2 linked regions of the Homo sapiens genome follow. The protein of the gene in region 2 purifies or fractionates together with the protein of the main gene of each other region. This does not show direct contact. Each region holds a gene or a part of one and is shown on either strand. Other genes may lie near its edges.

Region 1 (7,000 bases), on a different chromosome or scaffold from region 2:
TTATTCTTTTGAAATGAAGAAAAGTCCTAACCTTTTAGGGGTAGGGGGTGTTAATAATCTTATTTTTGATCCGCAAAGTACAAGCAATTTTTCCTTCTTAAGCCCCTCTTCTCCCAAAATGCTTTAAAAACACAAACACACCTCAAAAATCTCAAGAAATTCATTAGATCAGCATTCTCTTAAAATTGCACCGTTTTTTAACATACACAATACTGCTAAATACTGGTTTAACCTGAGACGAAACAAGAGTTCTGTTATTTACATGGTTTAAACCACAGCTTATTTGTATTCAGAAGTATCCTATTATACAACATATCATATAGTAATCAAGCAAAGCCTAGAAACAGTTCCTAACTTAGAGCTTCAATAAACAAATGTCTAATCCTTCAATTCCTATCTCAACATGTCTCTGGCTACTTGCATGCTTGGGATTAGTGTATTAGATGTCAGTGACTTGGAAGGCCTGCTTTTCTTCAGTTTTTCTAGACAGAACTTTCCAAGTTTCCAGTTAAAGCCCTTATCCCTGGAGCCTCATTGTACTGCAATGTTACCAGGACACAAAGGTTTCTTTTGTCTCACTGCTGCCCTGTTCATTCTTTCCTTTTAATTGAAAACCAAAGGGCATCTCACACTCAACAGCACTTCTCCCCAGATGCTACTTTGGGGGACACTATATGTCTTATTTGCTAGTCTACCAAAATAAAACATAATATCATTCAAGTGAGAAGTGTAATGAATGTATTTCCTTAGAGGAAAAAGCTTGGTGTCTGAAACAACACAATATGGGTATCTGCCTATCTCTACAAACGAACACATATTATTTTGGGGTCATCAGGGTCAGGGAAGGGGGAGTTCAGAATAATCAGCCTCAATCCTACAGTTGAGATTGAGGTATAACTTCCCATGAGCTTCCATCTCCATGTTGCACCTGAATGCCAGTAACAGAACTGGGACTGGAAGCCAGGTCTTTTCCTACCAGTTCTGATGTAAATCAATTCCCAGGGAATCAGGGAATCTGTCCATGTCTTCTCCCATACAACGCTTTTTTTTTTTTTTTTTTTTAAGATAAAGTCTTGCTCTGTCCCCAGCCTGGAGTACAGTGGCGTGACCTTGGCGCACTGCAATCTCCACCTTCCAGGTTCAAGCGATTCTCCTGCCTCAGCCTCCTGAGTAGTTGGGACTACAGGCACAAGCCACCATGCCCGGCTAATTTTTGTATTTTTAGCAGAGACAGGGTTTCACCATTTTGGCCAGGCTGGTCTCAAACTCCTGACCTCAAGCGATCCTCCTGCCTCGGCCTCCCAAAGTGCTGGAATCAAAGGCGTGAGCCACTGTGTCCAGGCCTCCCACGTAACTCTTAAAATGGAATGTGCTGCACATTCTCTGCAAGAAAATACCAACTAGTACATATACACAGTAATGTCGTCCATCTTAGACGTGAAGCCTGTTGGATTACACCAGTGATGTTACTCAACATATAAGCTTGAAATATCCAAATAAGCTTCCTCACATGAAGATAAATGGTCCTATTAATATCTCCTATGAATCATTTATTAATTTATTCACATATTTACTGAGAATCTACTATATGCCAGGCACTGGAGAAATCAGAAGTGACCAAGTCAGATAGTCTTTTTTCTTATGGAGCTCATTTACTTTACATTCTAGCAGGAAAGAGATAAACAAACCAGTAGGCAAATAAATAAAGACAACTTTCAGATAGTGACAAATCTATAAAAAATGATATTACTTGCTGGGTGCGGTGGCTTACGCCTGTAATCCCTGCACTTTGGGATGCTGGAGTGGGCGGATCACCTGAGGTAACGAGTTCGAGACCAGCCTGACCAATATGATGAAACCTCGTCTCTACTAAAAATACAAGAATTAGCTGGGCGTGGTGGCATGCACCTGTAACCCCAGCTACTTGGGAGGCTGAGACAGGAGAATCGCTTGAACCCGGGAGGCGGAGGTTGCAGTGAGACGAGATCGCGCCACTGCAGTCCAGCCTGGGCAACAAGAGAGAAACTCCATCTCAAAAAAAAAAATTGATATTACCGACAGCAATTTTAGGTGGGGTGCTTAGGGAAGGTTTCTAAAAGGGAGAGCTGAGCAGAGGGCTGAGCTGTGAAATGCATCTTGCAAAATCTGAGGGCAGAACATTTTGGGCTGAGGAAACAGCAAGTCTGAGGCCCTGAGATTGACTCAGAAAGCATGGTGAAAGAGAACATAAAGAAGGCCAGCAGGCTGCAGTACAGTCAACATGAGAAAGAGTGGCTTCAAGATGCAAGAAGGAGGCGGGTTGGCCTAAATAATGTAGAACCTTCTACGGCCTGATACAGAGTAAGACTTTAGTCTAAATGTAAGGGGAACCCACTAGACTGTTTCAAATAGAAAAGTGACATGATGCCATGTATGGTTTTTAAAGTTCCCTTTCTTGTCTAAGGAATAGATTATTGAGGATGAGAGCAGAAACAAACCAATTAGATGGTCACAGGAGTCGAGAAGAAAGTCTACTACTACTACAGTAGCAGTAGATACCAACAATTCAAGAGATTTGGAGTACGTTTTGGAAACAGTTCTTGGCCCAGGCACCTGGAGGCATAGGACTACCAGTTACTGGGACTGGGAGGACCAGAAAAAGAAGAGACTTTGGGGAAGGGCAGTGTGATGAGAGTGGGGGTGATGTGGCACAGTATTGAGAATTTTGATTCAGCCAAGTTTCATTTGGGATGTCTATGAAGACATTCAAGTGGATGACCAAAAGGCAACACTGATCTAGAGCAAAGTCATCTTTGCTGCTTTCTCAGCCCTTCTATCAGGACAGGGCATGCTATACCACTAGAGAACATCTTACTAAGAATATAGGAAAGTTGCTAAACATGTTCTTTTAAAACTCAGAGCCCAATTTCTCCCCTGGATGAAGCTGACTGCACTGCCCACCTGTGTCAGAATCTAATCCCAGTACTAGTAGGATTGATGCCTTGAGTTAACCCTAAGAAGGATGTGGACTTTTGACTATAACACTCTTGCACACAACACAAACTCCACAAACCACTACCAGCTTTTCAGAATTACAGGAATATCAGTGTTCAAAGGGACTTGAGAGATCACCAGGTAGAAAACCCTCTTTCTGTTGATGAGGAGACAACATCCATAGATGCTGATGAGAAAATGGACACCTTACAGGTTTTCCTCCAAGTACAAAGGATATTCTGTATTCCTTCAGTTCTTTCAGTTCTTCTTCTCTTCGTTGCTTTTCTATTAGTTCCTGCTGTCGAGAAACCTCATCAAGGAAGTTGGTCTCATCTTCATCTAAGCCTCTTACCATGTTTTCTGAGGAAATAATTAAACAAGGCACACTTAGCAGGCTAAAGGGAAAAATAAGATTTTTCCTTTCCCCTTTTTAAATAAGCAGCAGATTCTTCAGGGGATTAAAAAAAAAAGAACTGGTAAATACCATGGCGTTTGAATAGATAACAGGGCATAAAAAAAAACAAGGCATTTTTTCCCATTACTAAATATTACCATAGAATTAAAATGGGTGTTTTGAGCTCTAAACAAAAATATTCAATGTGGTCTAGAAGGCTGAAGGCTGTCTCTTTTCCACCAAATAAGCATCCGGAGACTCGAAAATCAAGACAATTCCACGGCTAGTTAGGAAAAGTGCTGCACAAGGCAAAAGTGCGTCAAAAGTACCCCACAGAGCCCCTTGAACTCTCTGTTTTCTGAAGCTTACTGAATTTGAACTGTTCCTCGTACTCCTGCTGCTTCCTGTCCTTCTGTTCCTGTAGCCTTTCATATAGAGATCGAGGGTCATAAACCTCCTCTGGACATTCTGAAAGGAAAAGGAGAGGGGAGAGAGGTGGACGGGGAGGAGATATACACTTCAGATTGTTTTCATATTATTTTGGAATCACAAAAGGTTTTAAAGACAAAGTCAAGTCTCTGCATGATCTGAGGGTGTGGATAACACAAAAATAGTACAAAGTCCAGTTTCCCTTTGGACCTCAGAGAGGGGCCACCAGTTCTCAAAGCCAACTATCAATGTCAATAGCGCCCATGGCCTGAGACAGTTAACTGATTGAGGGGCCAGCCCAAACCCTCCACAGCAGCAGTGTTCTCAGTTGTTCAGACCATGGATCCACCTGTATAGATGGAGGAGAGGAGCAGAATCTCTTGGAAGGAAGTGTGGTAGGCAGAAAAGAAGCAGGATGTGAGTATGCTGGCTCTGCTCCCAGCTGTGCAGGACCTTACATAGGTGACTTCGCCCCTGAGTCTCAGTTCCTCAACTCTAAAGTATGGACAATTGGCCAGGCATGGTGGCTCACACCTGTAATCCCAGCACTTTGGGAGGCCGAGGCAGGAGGATGGCTTGAGCTCAGGAGTTTGGAACCAGCCTGGCCAACAGATGAAACTCCATCTCTACCAAAAATACAAAAATTAGCCAGGCGTGGTGGCTGGTGCCTGTAATCCCAACTACTCGGAAGGCTAAGGCAGGAGAATCTCCTGAGCCTGGGAGGCAGAGGTTGCAGTGAGCCAAGATCGCGCCACTGCACTCCAGCCTGGGCAACAGAGTGAGACTCCGTCTCAAAAAAATAAATAAATAAAACCAAGTGAGGACAATTAATACCTACTCTGCAGGGTTGCTGTGTGGATTAAAGACCATTATACTGACTGTCACAGTATACCTTCTGGATCTTCAGGTTTTCGAACTTTCTCCCATTCTTCTTGCCTCCTTTTGCGCCGTTCATCTAGTTCTGCCTCAGACACAAACCTCTTTTTGATAATAAGGTTACCATCATCCCCTCCATCCATAATGAAACAACCAATCTACAAAACAAAAACAAAAACAAAAAAAATCATTTCAAGTGAGAACTGCAATTAAAATTCTAAAGAGAAACAAGGAGATTTAGCTCCATCTCACCCAGCAACAAACTAAAAATTATCTTCCAACTTTGAATTGAAAAAATTCTCGGCCGGGTGCGGTGGCTCATGCCTGTAATCCTGGCACTTTGGGAGGCCGAGGCGCATGGATCACGAGGTCAGGAGTTCAAGACCATCCTGACTGACATGGTGAAACCCCGTCTCTACTAAAAATACAAAAATTAGCCAGGCACGGTGGCACGCACCTGTAATCCCAGCTACTCAGGAGGCTGAGGCAGGAGAATCGCTTGAACCTGGGAGGCGGAGGTTGCAGTGAGCCAAGATCACACCGCTGCACCCCAGCTTGAGCGACAGGGCAAGATTCTGTCTCAAAAAAAAAAAAAACTCTCAAATAGTTTAATTTATAGGCCATTGATGAAAGCACATGAATACATTTTTCCTGACATATCAGAGAATTTTTATTAACATCGATGTTATCTACACAGTTGGCAAGAGGACCTGGGATAATTCTTATTACCTGGTGTTCCATAGTAAATCTCATATTGCAGCTATTTCTCTGTCCCTCTAATCTAGAAAAATTGGCCTCCTGAGCATCCCATCCTTTTCCCAGCTCTCATCCTCCTTTATTTCTGTAACATCTGACATTGTTTCTTCTTGAAATTCCTGTTTCTGAGACATTACACTATCTTGATTCACCTGCTCTTGCCTCCAAGTAGATTAAGATGGAGAATCTCAGCTATTGAAGACTTAGTGTTCAAGTCCAGTCTGTATAGCAGGGAAGGTGCACAAACCATGAATGGAGAAAGTGAGACTGGAAGAACAGATCTCCCAACTTCAGTTCCACGTACTTTCCTGAATACTAATCTGACTCTTCATTTATATCTCTTCTGACCTTCCTCCCTGTAAACCCCTTGTCTGTGCCATTTAAGATTTGAACTTCAATCCTTCTCTTTTCTCACTCCCACAATCACCTCAACCATTTTATGCATATTTTGACACAGAAGATTACCGAATCTGTTATTTCTACCTGAGCTTTTCTTCAAAGAGGAGAGAAGGAAATAAAGATAGCAGAGTGTATATTACTTATTACTCCTTTTTTTTTTTTTTTTGAGATGAAGTCTCGTTCTGTCACCCAAGCTGGAGTCCAGTGGTGCAATCTCAGCTCACTGCAACCTCCGCCTCCCAGGTTCAAGCGATTCTCCTGCCTCCGCCTCCTGACTAGCTGGGACTACAGGCGTGTGCCAACACGCCCAGCTAATTTTTGAATTTTTAGTAGAGATGGGGTTTCACTATGTTGGCCAGGCTTGTCTCGAACTCCTGAACTCGTGATCTGCCCGCCTAGGCCTCCCAAAGTGCTGGGATTACAGGGGTGAGCCACCGCACCTGGCCATATTACTCCTTTTAAACTAAACCTCTGTTTTTCTTTATTGGTTTCTTTCCTTTTGAGTAACTGTGGAATTAACCCCTACCCAGACATGTTATTCACAGCACTATGTGCTAACAAGGAGGCACATATTCAATCCAATGTCCATTCCAAGATAACCACTAACAACAAAAACAGTAAGTTTCCACGCTACCACAAAAATAAAGCAGCTAACAGTTAATGAGCTCTTACCATGTATTATATTCCTTTTATGGATATTATCTAATTTACATGATCATTGACCCTATGAGAAATATTATCTGTTTACAGATGAAGTTGAGGTCCAGAGGAGTTAGATTATTTGTCTAAGGTGATACAGGTGGTGAATGGTAGAGCTGAGAACCAAATCCAGGCCTGATATCAAAAATGCATACTCTTACCAACTTTACCATACTCCTCCCCAGAAAACACTAAATCTTAGTTGAAAACAAAGACATGTCGACTTCAGCTTTCTTCCTACTTCAAATTCCAGTGCTGAGAATATTCATGCAACATTTTTATTTAGTAAAGCTAGAAATGGAAGCTGAAAAAACAAACCCAAACGTTCAGAACAAGAGAATAGTCTCAGCCTGAATACTACTGTTGCTGAGGTTTAGTTTAATGTAACAATAAGAGCGAATTGTGAAAATTACTAGAAAGAAATGAAATCAACTGACAGACGCTGTTGCTCCCACCTAAAGCCCACAACCTGGA
Region 2 (7,571 bases):
AAAGAAAAAGAAAAAAAGTGCTAAGGACCCACAACAAAATTTTTAATATTAAAATTAAAAAATGAGGCTGGGTGCGATGGCTCATGCCTGTAATCCCAACACTTCGGGAGGCCGAGGCAGGAGGATCACTTGAGCCCCCGAATTTGGGATCAGCCTGGCCAACATGACGAAACCCTGTCTCTCTAAACAAAAATACAAAATTTAGCCAGGCGTGGTGGCCAGTGCTTGTAATTGAAGGCACTGGAGAGGCTGAGGCAAGAGAATCGTTTGAACCCGGTAGGCGGAGATTGCAGTGAGCCGATATCGCGGGCCACTGCACTCCAGCCTGGGCCACAGAGTGAAACTCTGTCTCAAAGGAAAAAAAGGAAAAGAATATAATAATAATGAATTCAGCTTGGATTTATAAATATAAATGTGTTAATATAAAGACAATAGTCTTTATACCAATACGGTTGTAAAATAAAATTCTTAATTTTTTATGGAGAAAAGGGTCAGTCCACTGAGGCAAAAGTGCTTGGGGCTCACGAAAGCCTCGAAGCTCTGCCACTACCATCCACACTGCAAAAATCCTTTGAAAACAAAATTGAGGCAAGCTCGTTTTTTTTTTTTTTCTTGAGACGGAGTCTCGCTCTGTCGCCCAGGCTGGAGTGCAGTGGCGCTATCTCAGCTCACTGCAAGCTCTGCCTTCCGGGTTTACGCCATTCTCCTGCCTCAGCCTCCAGAGTAGCTGGGACTACAGACGCCCGCCACCACGTCCGGCTAATTTTTTTGTATTTTTAGTAGAGACGGGGTTTCACCGTGTTAGCCAGGATGGTCTCGATCTCCTGCCCTCGTGATGCGCACGTCTCCGCCTCCCAAAGTGCTGGGATTACAGGCGTGAGCCACCGCGCCCAGCCAAGCAAGCTCGTTCTTAAATGCTAGGCTAATTCTGCCCCCTAGCGGCCACAGAGAAATCTCAGAAATTAATGCCCCCAGTTGTTGAGTAATTCGCACCTACCAGGTGCCTTGAACTTACGCTGCATTATTTTGTCCTCACAATTCCATGAGGTTAAGTGATATCCAAATGTATAGATAAGCTGCCGAAGATTCGAGTGCTTAAGTCGGTTTGTTGTTGTTTTTTTTTGAGACGGGGTCTCAAAAGACAGGATCTTACGGAAGTTAATGCTGTTTCCTACTGAAGGAGGCACAGCGAGCGCAAGCCTTGGTGGGCAGGAAGCGTGCTTTAAAGTTTGAGACTGTCAGGCCCGGCGCGGTGGCTCACGCCTGTAATCCTGGCACTTTGGGAGGCCGAGGCGGGCAGACTTGAGGTCAGCAATTTGAGACCAGTCCGGCTAACATGATGAAAACCCGTTTCTACTAAAAATTCGAAAATTAGCTGGGTGTGTGGCACGCCTGTAGTCCCAGCTACTCGGAAGGCTGAGGCAGGAGAATCGCTTGAACCCGGGAGGTGGAGGCTGCAGTGAGCCGAGATCGCATCTCTGCACTCCAACCTGGGCAACAGAGTGAGGCTCTGTCTCAAAAAATAAAGTTGGAGACTTTTATTCTAAAAGCATTCAGTGAGCCATTTATTTATTTATTTTCCTGTAAGCTTGGAAAAATAGGTTCTTCCCCACCCATCTACATGACAGTAATGAGCAAATATCCTTATCAGATAATACATGATTTGCAAACATTTTCTTTCATTCTGTGGGTTGCCTTTTCTCTCTCTCTCTCTTTTTTTTAAGGCAGAGTTTCACTCTTGTTGCCCAGGCTGGAGTGCAATGGTACGATCTCGGCTCACCACAACCTCCACCTCCCATATTCAAGTGATTCTCTTGCCTCAGCCTCCCGAGTAGATGGGATTACAGGCTTGCGCCACCACATGCGGCTAATTTTTGTATTTTTACTACAGACAGGGTTTCACCACGTTGGCCAGGCTAGTCTCCAACTCCTGATCTCAGGTGATCTGCCCGCCTTGGCCTCCCAAAGTGCTGGGGTTACAGGCGTGAGACACCGCGCCCAGCGTCTTTTCACTCTCTTGATAGTGTTCTTTGATGCACAAAAGTTTTAATTTCGAAGTATATCTTTTTGTTGTTTTTGTTGTTGTTGCCTGTGCTTTTAACGTCATATACAAGAAATCATTGCTAAATCCAACGTCATGAAGATTTCCCCTATGTTTTCGTCTAAGAGTATTATAGTTTTAGCTCTTCAGTTTACATCTCTGATCCATTTTGAATGAATTTTTGTATATGGTGTAAGGCTGCACTTTACTTTTTGTATATGGATATTCAGTTTTCCCAATGCACTTCATTTGGAAATAATTTCCCCCCATTCCCTGCTGGTTTACTACTCTCAATTGGATAGTAAAACCAATTAAACCAATATGTATTTTTTTTTTAAATGGTGTCTCACTCTGTCTCCCAGGCTGGAGTGCAATGGCATTATCTCAGCTCACTGCAACCTCCCCCTCCCGGGTTCAAGCAATTCTCGTACCTCAGCCTCTGGAGTAGCTGGGATTACAGGCAGGCGCCACTATGCCCAGCTAATTTTTGTATTTTTAATAGAGATGGGGTTTCACCATGTTGGCCAGGCTGGTCTCGAACTCCTGACCTCAGGTGATCCGCCCGCCTTGGCCTCCCAAAGTGCTGGGATCATAGGGTGAGCCACGGTGCCCAGCCTCTTAAAAAAAAAAAAAAAGAGATGGAGTCTCACTATGTTGTCCAGGCTGGTCTCTTTTTTACTTCCTTTTTTTTTTTTTTTTTTTTTTTGAGACGGAGTCTCACTCTGTCACCCAGGCTGGAGTGCAATGGCGCGATCTCGGCTCGCTGCAAGTCCGCCTCCCGGGTTCACGCCATCCTCCTGCCTCAGCCTCCAGAGTAGCTGGGACTACAGGCGCCCGCCACCACGCCCGGCTAATTTTTTTTGTATTTTTAGTAGAGATGGGGTTTCATCGTGTTAGCCAGGATGGTCTCAATCTCTTGACCTCGTGATCCGCCCACCTCGGCCTCCCAAAGTGCTGAGATTACAGGCGTGAGCCACCGCGCCCGGCCCAGGCTGGTCTCAACTCCTTGGCTCAAGCTATCCTCCCACCTCAGCCTCCCAGTGAGTGGGGATTGCAGGCGTGAGCCACTGCGCCCGGCCAAAACCAATTCTATACATTTGTTTTTTTCTTTTCCGACTTTTGAAAACCATGACAAAGGGAGGTTTCTTCCCCCCAATACCAAACCTGGTGCCTTTTAAGCTCTCTGTAGGAGCTGAGTATGCCCTAGTTGAACTTAAGCCAACTACACAGAAATACCTGCAGGGACCAGGGAGCATATTCCTCCTCCTGTCAAATGCCTGGTGAAGGCAACTGTGATTATCAGCTTAGCAGATGAAAAAGTAGGGCTGCATTCCTTCAGTTGTTGGACCCAAATTCTGCCAGATTCTGACAAAGGGCTTAAAAGGAAGAATGTTTAGGCCAGGTGCGGTGGCTCACGCTTGTAATCCCAGCATTTTGAGAAGCCGAGGCGGGCGGATCACGAGGTCAGGAGATCGAGACCATCCTGGCTAACATGGTGAAACCCCGTCTCTACGAAAAATATATATAAAAAAATTAGCCGGGCGTTGTGGCGGGCGCCTGTAGTCCCAGCTACTCGGGAGGCTGAGGCAGGAGAATGGCGTCAACCCGGGAGGCGGAGCTTGCAGTGAATCGAGATCGCGCCACTGCACTCCAGCCTGGGCGACAATGAGAGACTCTGTCTCAAAAAAAAAAAAAAAAGAAGAAGATGTTTAGGACATGGTTTTTGGAGTCAGAGACGTATGTTCAAATTCTGGCTTCACTATTTTATAGTCTTTGGGCATATGCCCTTTATGTACCCTTGAAGATGTTGCTTAACCTTCCTGAGCCTCAGGTACCTCATCTTTAAAATGGGGATAATGTCTCGGGCCTAGCTGCGAGTCTCTAGTCAGTGCTCAGTAAAAAGTAGCAGACATGATTGAAAACTCGTTTTCCTCTTACAATTGAAGATAGGAACCTTTTCAAGAGCAAGCACCAGGCACCGAATTTAACGACTGGTTGCATTTCTAGGTGATCCAAGACCGTTTGCCCCCGGTCTCCCTGGCAGCACAGCGGTAGGAGATAAGAATGATATGACACCATGCTTGCAAAGTGCTCACAACACACTCCGGCGCTTAAAAAACGAGAGCTGAGTCATGGATGCCCAGTTTCCCCATCCGTAAAATGAGCAAGTTCGATCACTTGAAACGACATTCTTGGATCTTGGATGACTCAGATTTTCCAGGTACATGAGGAAAGGCACCCAGAGGGAAGGAGGAGGAGTGGCAGTGCTGCGACCAAGCCCAGGTTTAGCGAAACCTACAGCTCCACTAGTTCCCCTACCTCCGCAGGTGCCAAGCGGGTTAGGTGGGGAGTAGCCACAGGGCGGAGCTTAGTCGGCTCCGCCCCCAACCCGCGCTTTTCTCATTGGCCCACTGAACTCGAGACTCGTGACGCCTTAAGCGTGCGCCCAGCGTGTGAAGGGGGCGTGGCACGCTGAGAAGGAGCAGACAAGATGGCGACGTCCGTGGGGCACCGATGTCTGGGATTACTGCACGGGGTCGCGCCGTGGCGGAGCAGGTATAGCAGCGCGGAGAGACTACCTTGGGGCGTGGGGCAACCTGGACCAAGCTGGGGTCTGAAGAGAGATGTTTCTGTGTCGCGGGCTCGCTCTGAGGCGAGCTCGGGTGGAGACGGAGCCACCTTCACCTCGAGCTTAGGAGCAGGTGCGACTGCTCCTGCGTAGGGCGGTCCGGATTTACTTAGGGTGTGGCCTAGAAGCTCGCGCTTTGCCCTTTCCAGCTAGGTGGAAGTTCACGAGGGACAAAAATCAGATGAAATAGGCTACCTGCCCGTCTCTTGAGTCGAGGCAGGGCTTTCAGATGTTCAGATGCCATTTTCTCGTGTGTTCGTTTTCGTAGAAGGAATGATGTCCTGTGGGAAGGACACTAGATTGAGTGTCAGGCAACTTTCATTTCTGGATCTTAGTCTTTGAAGCTAGAGGGTTAGGTTAGGTAATCTCAAAACAATATGTTATGGGGCTAGAGTCTTGGTTACCCTTGTGACCCCCAGCTGTTAGATTCTTAGAAATGTGGGAGACTTGAGGGGTCTTCTGAGTCCAGCTGTCTCTCTTTGGAGTTAATGAGATTGAGGCTCCGAGAGAGGGAGGGATTTGCTCAAGTTCACCTAGCCAGTTTGTAGCAGAGCCCGGACCCCCATCAAGGTACCCCCTCACGCGACGATCTTTCTCTCAGGCTGCCCGCCGTGAGGGCAGTGGTTATACAGAAAATAGCTTAGAGCATTTGGAGTGTCGGAAAATGGATTAAAATGTAGCTGTGATTCAGAGTCGGCTGCCTGGTGTCATTTCAAAGAGCTAAGATTTGAGAGATGCGCCATACTTGTGTGTTTCCTACAGGGTTCATTTTGTCAGCGTTGATCAGAGGATAACCTATTGTTTTGGGAGGAGACGGACACTGGATTTGGACTGAGAGGGAACAGAAACCATCATTGGTCTTGTTATGAAAGCGTCACTCTTTCATCATTAACTGTACAGAAATGATTATCTCTCAGGAGAGGGCTCTGCATTGTGGTGGTAACTGTTAGAATTTGGGCAGGAGACTTTGTTTTCAATGTTATTACCAGGCGTGCTGTGTATGAGTCAACCCTGAATTCATTTAAAGTGTGTCACAGGCTGGGCGCGGTGGCTCACGCCTGTAACCTCAGCACTTTGGTAGGCCAAGGTGGGTGGATCACTTGAGGTCAGGAGTTCGAGACCAGCCTGGCCAATGTGGTGAAACCCTGTCTCTACTAAAAAATACAAAAATTAGCCGGGCATGGTGGCAGGCACCTGTAATCCCAGCTACTTGGGAGGCTGAGGCAGGAGAATTGCTTGAACCTGGGAGGCGGAGGTTGCAATAAGCCAAGACTGCGCCGCTGGAGTCCAGCCTGGGCGACAGAGTGAGACTCTGTCTCAAAAAAATTAAAAATAAATAAAGTGTGTCACGAATTGAAAGGACTAAAATGAGACTCTTAAAAAATTGTTTTTTGTTGTTGTTATTTGTTTTGGAAGTCAGAGCCTCACTCTGTTGCCCAAGAGGGAGTGCAGTGGTGTGATGATGGCTCACTGCAGCCTCCACCTCCTGGTCTCAAGCAGTTCTTCCACCTCAGCCTCCTGAGTAGCTAGGACCACAGGTGCACGCCACCCCGCCCAGCTGCATTTTTTTTGGGGGTGGGGGTGGAGACAGGGTTTCACCATGTTGCCCAGGCTGGTGTTGAACTCCTGGGCTCAAGTGATCCACCCACTTTCACCTCTCTAAGTGCTGGCATTACAGAAGTGAGCCATCGCAGTCCACCTAAAATAATTTTTTTAAATGATGAGAGGAGGCTGTACCTCAGTCACCATCATTAAAAGGGAAAGAAAAAAAGCTATGTTTTAGTACCAGTGTAGATAGATAAGGCTAGACTTAGATGCAGTGGGTGAGAGAGATGAAGATTTGGGTACAATAAGAAACCTTAATTTTCAAAGGTATTCTATATCAAGATAGAAATGATATTAATACACAAACCAAAAAGATAACATTTCTGTGGGTTTTTAGTAAACCAGTGCCTATTTGTGAGACATGTAAATGAAAACCTTATATTTCAGGTAAGTTTTTCAATAACTGGGTGATGTGTGACAGGTGATAGATAACATCTTGGGTGATAATTTAGGGCCATGTTTCCTAAACTCATTTGATAAAAGAATGGGCTGAATGGGCTGGGATGCTTGTTAGAAATAGAGATTCCTTGGGAGTCTCTCTGAGCCTGCTGTAGTTTGGGAGGCTGGCTGATTAAAAAAAACAAAGCCGGGCACGGTGGCGCATGCCTGTAATCCCAGCACTTTGGGAGGCCAAGGTGGGTGGATCATGAGGTCAGGAGATCGAGACCAGCCTGGCCAACATGCTGAAACCCCGTCTCTAACAAAAATTAGCCGGGTGTGGTGGCGTGTGTCTGTAGTCCCAACTACTCAGGAGGTTGAGGCAGGAGAATCTCCTGAACCCGGGAGGCGGAAGTTGCAGTGAGCCGAGATCACGCCACTGGACTCCAGCTTCGGCAACAGAGCAAGACTCCGTCTCAAAAAAAAAAAGATTCCAGATATGCCCCCATCCTACTGCCAATTTCAGATTCAGTAGATATAAGTTGGGGCTCTGGCAACTGTAGTTTTTACAGGTGATTCTTAGGTTCAGGCAAGTACGGACAATAGTACCTAGGAAGTAGCTTCTCGTGCATGACTTCCATCAGAAATATTTATGGCATCCCTACCACTGCAAACCACACTGTCAACGGACCATAGAGAAGGGAGAAGAGAGAAGGGAAGGGGAGCAAATGAAGAAATTAAAAACATTTGAAATAGGCCTTGTCTTCAAGGAACTTTACTATATACTTGTAATACATGGTGGAATACGGGATAAAGCCTTCAAGAGGTCTGTCCGTTCTGTTTTAGGAGAACTTTCACAGCTTTAGAAAGCAAGGGAGACATAAGGACTATAGGCAAAATGTTACTACTAGGGGTGAT

The links. Proteins that work in one complex are often made in the same cells at the same time.
Region 1: the proteins of PISD (region 2) and PSME3IP1 purify together in Homo sapiens (co-immunoprecipitation; 2 studies listed by BioGRID and IntAct, with this or other methods). This does not show direct contact.

The regions. Positions count from the first base shown.
Region 1 is NC_000016.10:57,169,040-57,176,039, forward strand, and holds part of PSME3IP1 (PSME3-interacting protein), read right to left. Parts: exon of another isoform or gene 6,503-7,000; coding exon of another isoform or gene 6,500-6,502; intron 5,982-6,499; exon of another isoform or gene 5,679-5,981; coding exon of another isoform or gene 5,676-5,678; intron 5,650-5,675; exon of another isoform or gene 5,581-5,649; intron 5,567-5,580; exon of another isoform or gene 5,426-5,566; coding exon of another isoform or gene 5,402-5,425; intron 5,252-5,401; exon of another isoform or gene 5,130-5,251; intron 4,947-5,129; exon of another isoform or gene 4,925-4,946; intron 4,831-4,924; coding exon of another isoform or gene 4,816-4,830; coding exon 4,689-4,815; intron 3,836-4,688; coding exon 3,737-3,835; intron 3,334-3,736; coding exon 3,212-3,333; intron 1-3,211. UniProt on the Homo sapiens protein: Promotes the association of the proteasome activator complex subunit PSME3 with the 20S proteasome and regulates its activity.
Region 2 is NC_000022.11:31,659,170-31,666,740, reverse strand, and holds the start of PISD (phosphatidylserine decarboxylase proenzyme, mitochondrial), read left to right. Parts: upstream 1-4,525; 5' UTR 4,526-4,532; coding exon 4,533-4,597; intron 4,598-7,571. UniProt on the Homo sapiens protein: Catalyzes the formation of phosphatidylethanolamine (PtdEtn) from phosphatidylserine (PtdSer). Plays a central role in phospholipid metabolism and in the interorganelle trafficking of phosphatidylserine.